Homo sapiens: one gene and its partner. The protein of the gene in region 2 purifies or fractionates together with the protein of the main gene of each other region. This does not show direct contact. Each region holds a gene or a part of one and is shown on either strand. Other genes may lie near its edges.

Region 1 (3,847 bases), on a different chromosome or scaffold from region 2:
TTAAAACTCATTGTGGACTTCTGGCCTCCAGAACTGTAAGAAGACAAATTTGTGTTGTCTGAAGCCACGAACTTTGTGGTAATTTGTTACAGTAGCCACAGGAAATGAATACAGTGGCTTTTATTTTTATTTTTTTATTTTTAGTTTTTTTTTGAGACAGAGTCTTTTTCTGTCGCCCAGGCTGGAGTGCAGTGGTGCGATCTCAGCTCGCTGCAACCTCCACCTCCTGGGTTCAAGTGATTCTAGTGCCTCAGCCTCTCGAGTAGCTGGGATTACAGGCATGTGCTAATTTTTAAAATTTTTTTATAGAGATGAGGTTTTGCTATGTTGCCCAGACTGGTCTTGAACTCCAGGGCTCAAGTGATCCTCTTGCCTCAGGCACCCAAAGTGCTGGGATTACAGGCGTGAGCCATCACACCTGGCCTACTGTGGCTTTTAAAAAATAGCTGTGCCTGGGCCCCACAGAGTCAGGGTACTGACCACCCAGAGGTCCTGACTCAGTAGGTCTGGTGCAGGGGCTTATGCTTATGTGATTTTAGGACCTTCTATGAGTTGAGAACCACTGAACTTGATTGTGTAGTTCCTTGACAGGGACTGCCATTTGATGATCTCCACATGCCCTGCAGAGAGTGGGGTTTCAAAAGCGGGCTGTGAAACTGAATTAGGCCAGCCTTGTCTCACAATTTCTGTCATACTCCTTTGTTTTACTGTTTACTCCCCTAAATGTGGTTCCCATTGGTGACAGAGTTGATAAAGCCCCGTGGCTGCTAAGCTCGAGGGAAGTCCCTGTGGGACTCCCCAGGGGAGCAGTTCCCTCGGATCTGCCTGAGGCAGCTGCAGCTTCAGCCATGAGCCATGCTTGCCCCCACGCTGCCCGTCTGCGCCCTGTGCCCCTCCAGGAACCCAGGAATCGGCGTAGCAAGGGTCCGTGGCCACTAGGGGCAGCACTTGTAACAGAAACGTGTGTCCGCCGTATTCCAGAGCTGTGTGTGGGGTTGAGGTGAAAGACTGACTGGAAATCTATGATGCCCACCTAGTTTATATAAGTATTTCCTGGCAATGTCCACAGTGTCAGGGAAGTGCTGACTGCACTTCCTCACATGGGTAGAAGCCAAATCCAAGGGACCCCTTCGTCCATCAGGGGAGGCTGTAGGCTCCCTGCCTTCCAGTGCCTAGACGGGGCTCAGTGTCATCACACGTGAACGCCTGAGTGCAGGACCCAGGCCACACAATACACCGAGGCCCTGGGTAGGGGCCCGCCATGCGTGCTGACTCTACGACCACGTATATTTGTGCACCAGAAGCAGAGTGTCCCTCTTTGGACTGAACAATGATGCCCCTAAAACTGGAGGCTGCTCTGCTGAGAACCAAGGACCCTGGAGATGGGCCTTGCCTGCATGGTGCCATCTTCCCGAGCACCTGGCTGCTATTGTATGCCGGACAGAGTTTGGCTTGTTACAGTCATGGCTGATTTATTTCATATATTTTAAAAGTATAATCATGTTACTAGCAGAATGGTATTCCTCTAATGTAAAGTCTTTTTTTTTTTTTTTTTTTTGAGACAGGATGCCCCTCTGTTGCCCAGGCTGGAGTGCAGTGGCTCGATCACAGCTCACTGCAACCTCTGCCTCTCGGGTTCAAGCGATTCGATTCTCCTGCCTCAGCTTCCCAAGTGGCTGGGATTACAGGCACCCGCCACCATGCCCGGCTAATTTTTTGTATTTTTAGTAGAGATGGGGTTTCACCATGTTGGCCAGGTTGGTCTTGAACTCCTGACCTCAAGTGATCCACCCACCTCGGCCTCCCAAAGTGCTAGGATTATACTGCACCCAGCCAAAAGTCATTTTTAAATAAAAGGAATATGTTCCTATTGGCAATGTCAAACATCCAATCAAGTAAAAAATGACTTTCAGGGTAGTGCACGATGACATTTCAGTCCAAAACAAAGTATGTTCATGGCAACTGGAAATGAATAACACAGCTTGTAGCCATAATGCTTTGTAATGTTCTCCAGAGTTGTCAAGGATGAGGGTCAAGTTATTGCAAGGGCTGTGACCCTGGTATTTGGTATAAGCACCTATCCACATAATGACTAGGGGCATTCTCTTACCTAATGTGATGTTGCCTGGTGAAGACCTGCATTCTGAGGGTGGCAGTGCTGCTGCTGGGAGCTTCTAGAACCTTCCCCCAGGTGAGCCATCACAGTTCTTGGGAGTCACCACAGCAAAAGGGGACTCTAGGTTGGCCCCTTGTCCTGCTGAGAGGCTGCTACTGCTGATGCCTGGTTTCCGTGACACTGTGGGTTTTCTTTTAACAGCACCTCAGTTTCCCACAATGGCCTCTCTTCTTCCTGCGTGTCTGGGCCCAGTGCTCTTCTCTCTGCTGCAGCCCCACCTCCTAAGCAGCCATCTGCAAGCCATTTTCCTCCTTAGCTTTCAACAGGGACCTGCACCTCATGACCTTTCTGGGGCCCCAGGGCTAACACGTGCCCAGTAAAATGGCCATTCACTCCTGAAACCCGATTCCCCTTTTTCCCTCTTTGTCACTGCAGACACCATCAGTTTCCTCTGCCTTGTCTCATTTCAGGCCCATGTGCTTCATTTTCACCCCCACTCCACCCCCACCCTCATCCAATACAGCTTTCTTGATGGTCTTCGGGCCCCAGCCCTCTGTCTGCCAAACCATCCTCCACACGGTTGCTGGAGCCAAGGTCCTTAAACTCCACATTTAAACTCAGAATCTGCAACTGCTCCTGATTGCCCCCTGGCCTTACTGCAGTCCTCCCAGGCTCCCTTCATGGTCGGCCCCTCTCCCCTTGGAGTCTATCCATTTCTTGCTCTTTCTGGATGCCCAGTCGTCCTCCAGCCAGTGGGCTCAGTCCCCTGCACACATGGGTCTGGCTGCACCTCTGTCTCCACACTTGGCTATCCTCCTTTGTCCCTGACTCCCTCGCCCATTCTCTCCGGGCCTCTGCCATGCAATTCAGCAGCCAGCTGTGCTAAGTGATGTACTGTGTTACCCTGGGGTCCCCGCCTGGTTGTAAAATTCAGGAGTGTTCAGGGCCTACAATCACATCCACATCCTGATGCCTGCGCCCGACAGCACACACCGTAGATGCTTAACGTGAACTGGTTCTGCCCCAGCTGACATCTTCACTGAAGCACTTTTGTATTCCTTGCTGCTGCCTGGCTCCTGCCACAGTCACTGGCAGGCAGGTGCTCCAATATTCAACAAATGAATGAAAGTCCTGACTTTTCATCAGTTTGCTCAGCCCTGGAAACCCTGGACTTACCTTAGCTCCAGCTTCTGCCTCCCTGAACATGCAGCATCGCTGCCTCTCACTGACTCTGCACCTGAAATATTTTCTTGATCCACCCTCCCCGACCCCCTGCCACAGGGTGGGCCTGCACTGCAGTTGGTCTGTTTTAACCATGTTAAGATGCACTTTTTTTTTGTTTAAATATTTTAATATTGTTGAAATCAGGAAGCATCTTAGAACTGCTGTCAGCCTGGAGCTGAGTTCTTCCAGAAAGAAATTACATTTCCTTCTATGTCACCTGGGGACACTACCAAACTAAGGCTATGTCTCACTCTCTTCTCTGCCTCAGGTTTTGAGCTGCACTGGATCTGGCTGCAAATCTTCAGGAGCACTGGCTTGCGGTTCAAATTCTTTTTCTGTTTTTTAGACACAGAGTTTCACTCTTGCCACCCAGGCTGGAGTGCAATAGCGTGATCTCGGCTCACTGCAACCTCTGCCTTCTGGGTTCAAGTGATTCTCCTGCCTCAGCCTCCCAAGTAGCTGGGATTACAGGCACCCACCACCACGCCCAGCTAATTTTTGTATTTT
Region 2 (3,847 bases):
AGGCCTGTAGGACGCAGGAGTCAATTCACTCGCCACGGAGAAGGGCAATCCAGGCCGAGGGTGTGGCTACACGGGGAGGGGTGGAGAGTGGGTACAGTGGGGCAGAGGTGCCGGGCCAAGCGAGAGGGGAAGGCGTGGGTCAGGCCCCGCCCCACACTTCCCCAAAGCCGAGATGCCCACCCCTTCCTTGACTCCACCTGTGCCCAGCCTGTTCCGTCACAGCCCTTCACACGTGGGACTGCAGCTATCTACAGGTGGCTCTCCCGGAGGCAGGGAGCATGTGGGCGGCCGCGCCCCTCTGGCGCCCAGCACCGAGCCTGACAGACAGGAGCCTTGGGAGGCAGGTGGTGGCAGAATGGGAGCACTGAACCGGAAGAGTGGGCCAGACCCCTCTTGGAAGGGACTCTGCTGGTGGTGTGAATGATGCCACAGCACCTGCTCCTCAGGTCAGTCCCCTGGACATGCAGGCGCTTAGCACTGCACGGTGAGCTGGAAATAGAGGACAGGGGTCTGAGCCTTGAGGTCCAACCTCTGGTCAGGCTGGGAGAGGCGTCCACAGACATGGAAGAGCTCAGGAAGAGGCTGTGCAGCTCCTCACCCCCCAGAGGGAAGCAGCAAGTGCTGAGGAAGCATCCAGGAGCAGGGCTGGCATCAGGGGAAGGGGGAGGAGCACAGGGGCTGGGGTGAGGGCCCAGGAGGGCAGCCAGTGTGCAGACTGCTCCTCATCCCAACACTGCTCTTGCCGCCCTCGCTCCTGAATTCAGAGCGTTAAGAGAAGCGACACAGCAGCGCGGCCTGTGTGAGCTGCACGAGAACTTTCACACTGCCTTGTCGTCACGTGAGAAAAAGTAAAAAGTTAAGATTGATTTTAACAATAGACCTTATCTAACCCCAAATACCAAAATATTATGATTTTAACACATAATACAAAAAATTAAGATATTTTAAGTATTTCTGACACTAAGTCTTCGCCACTTGGGCATATGTCACAGGTAGGGTACGTCTCAGTTCAGACTCTGGCCCCTGGCAACCACGCTGGACAGCACAGGTCACCGGTAGCACTGCTTTTCCCCATGTGGCGCGTGCACACGCTCACACAGAGGGACAGACAGTGCGGCGGGTGGCAGGTTGTGTGTTTCCTCTACTTTCGCATATTCTAAACTTTCTACAATGAGTATGAACTACTTAAAAAAATTCTAAAGTATAACATATTTGTAGGAACCTCCCTCAAATCAACTCACCTTGGCTTGCTTTGTTTGGAGTTGCTATGTAAAGAATCCCAAGAAGAAAATTAATAAGCTCAGGTATAAACCTCTGGGACAAAGCCACATACTCCAGGAACAGGCAGCACACGAACAGGCCCTTCACCACGTCCTGGAGGGACAGGATGGGGCACTGGAAAGGAACATATGGGGGGTTACTGTCCTGGGACGATGTCATGCCATGCTAGGCCGACCACCGGGCTTCCCTGATGAACCACGCACCCCACTGAGCTTCACAAGTACAGAGGGAACCCCCGCACCTTATAGCAGTGTCGAGAGCATCAAATGAGATGAAAACAAGATAAAGAGCTTTAGTGATTTTTTTTTCCCGAGACGGAGTTTCACTCTTACCACCCAGGCTGGAGTGCAATGGCACAATCTCGGCTCACTGCAACCTCCACCTCCCGGGTTCAAGTGATTTTCCTGCCTCAGTCTCCCGAGTAGCTGGGATTACAGGCATGTGGCACCACACCCAGCTAATTTTTGTATTTTTAGTAGAGACGGGGTTTCGCCATGTTGGCCACACTGGTCTTGAACTCCCGACCTCAGGTGATCCGCCCGCCTCAGCCTCCGAAAGTGCTGGGATTACAGGCGTGAGCCACCGCGCCTGGCCAGAGCTATACTGATTATAAAGTTCCTTCCACCCATACAGAGCGTACGATTACTGCACTAAGCATGTACCAATCACATGCCTAATAAAGAAAAAGGAACAGCTTGAACTTTTTAAGCCAAAAAGGGAACAAAAGCCCTTATCATCACACTGGATAACTTCACCACTAACTTGAAAGGTTGTTTTCTGGGGTAGCACCATCTGTAACCTTGAGGTGCCAAACCAGGCCCTCCCACTCCCACCCACATCTGGGGCTGCTCGAGCCGGGGCTCTTTTAGATGGGCCCTCTTTGGCCTAACCGCAGTGCTCGGTCTCTGCAGCCCTTAAACAGCCACACTCATGTTCCACAAGGCCCCGAGGGGCTGTGGCTCCGGCCACCCGTGGTGCAGCAGGCCGACCCCTGCCGCATGTGGAGAGAACGCACCTTGGTGAGCAGCTGACTGAGGCACACGAGGGCAGGGGTCACCACTGGGTGCCAGAAGTCGGAAGTTGGAAATAGCAGCCCAGTGATTTTCAAATAAATGAGCTGGAAAGAAAGTGTTACCACAGGTTAAAGAAGGTAAATGAAGTCCATCCATATGCCCTCCCCGCAAACACTCCGGAGCCAAGAACAGGATCTGGCGAGGAGAGGGTGCATCTCCTTGGCCCAGAGCTCTGGCCTCAGTGTCACAGAACAGGCGTCCAACCACCGTGGGTCAACCAGCTAAACGTGCAGTGAGGACACTGAGGCCCATGAAGACTTCAAAGCAGTCAACAATGGTTATAGACACGGGCTCAGATCATGTTTTGGGGAGTTGATTAAAAATCACTAACCTAAGTCCTACATTTTTAAGCTTCTGCTAACTATTGTGAATCCATTTCAACACAAACACCAGGCAACAGAATAAAGAGCGTATCTCAGCAAGTATTTCCTTAAAGTTACTAAAGCTGAAAATACAGCATGAGGCTGTTATAAAATTGTTAAAAATCTCAGCGTACAAATGTCTCCCAACCTTTGAATAACATAGAAACCGAGACCAATTTAAACCAGCCCACAGGCTTGGGCCCTTAAGGACAATACCGTGGTTCTATTTGCCTTCCAATGTTTTTGTCACTGGACCAAATACAGCACCATTCACGTGGAATCAAACCAGAATCTCCCTGCACGACCCACACGTTAGTCCATGGCTAGTGGAGGAGTGCCCTCCCCTCCCAGGCTCGCTGCCGTGCACTCTCACTCCAGATCACCCTCACTGCCGTGCACTCTCACTCCAGATCACCCTCACTGCCGTGCACTCTCACTCCAGATCACCCTCACTGCCGTGCACTCTCACTCCAGATCACCCTCACTGCCGTGCACTCTCACTCCAGATCACCCTCACTGCCGTGCACTCTCACTCCAGATCACCCTCACTGCCGTGCACTCTCACTCCAGATCACCCTCGCTGCCGTGCACTCACTCCAGATCACCCTCACTGCCGTGCACTCTCCAGATCACCCTCACTGCCGTGCACTCTCCAGATCACCCTCACTGCCGTGCACTCTCACTCCAGATCACCCTCACTGCCGTGCACTCTCACTCCAGATCACCCTCGCTGCCGTGCAGCTCACTCCACATCACCCTGGAAGCACAGGGTACAGCCAAGAGCATCGTACCCGTCGTCCACCTTCTGTGATGCCAAACAGAACTTCTGTGGCAGGGGCAGTGCCTAGACTGAACTCTGCTTACCACATCCAACCCTGGCAATGCCGCCCGGCCTTTGGTCTCAATCATTTCTTCCATCTCATGCATCGCATCTCGGAGAACAAATTTGATAGCGTCACTTGCAGATTCAGGAAACATCTGGCAAAGATGATATAAGTGCCTGTTAAGCAGAAATGTAAAGTCAGGAGAGAATGACTTTAGATAAGAAACACAGAAAAGCCCTGCAAGCCACTTTCCTATGCAGTCACCTGTTGACTGAGCAAGTAAGAACTGGATGAATCCGCTTTTTCT

What was found. The genes of interacting proteins can lie anywhere in the genome.
Region 1: the proteins of NOP14 (region 2) and MACROH2A2 purify together in Homo sapiens (co-immunoprecipitation; one large-scale study listed by IntAct). This does not show direct contact.

The regions. Positions count from the first base shown.
Region 1 is NC_000010.11:70,104,514-70,108,360, reverse strand, and holds part of MACROH2A2 (core histone macro-H2A.2), read right to left. Parts: intron 1-3,847. UniProt on the Homo sapiens protein: Variant histone H2A which replaces conventional H2A in a subset of nucleosomes where it represses transcription. Nucleosomes wrap and compact DNA into chromatin, limiting DNA accessibility to the cellular machineries which require DNA as a template.
Region 2 is NC_000004.12:2,942,832-2,946,678, forward strand, and holds part of NOP14 (nucleolar protein 14), read right to left. Parts: intron 3,717-3,847; coding exon 3,581-3,716; intron 2,399-3,580; coding exon 2,297-2,398; intron 1,396-2,296; coding exon 1,242-1,395; intron 1-1,241. UniProt on the Homo sapiens protein: Involved in nucleolar processing of pre-18S ribosomal RNA. Has a role in the nuclear export of 40S pre-ribosomal subunit to the cytoplasm.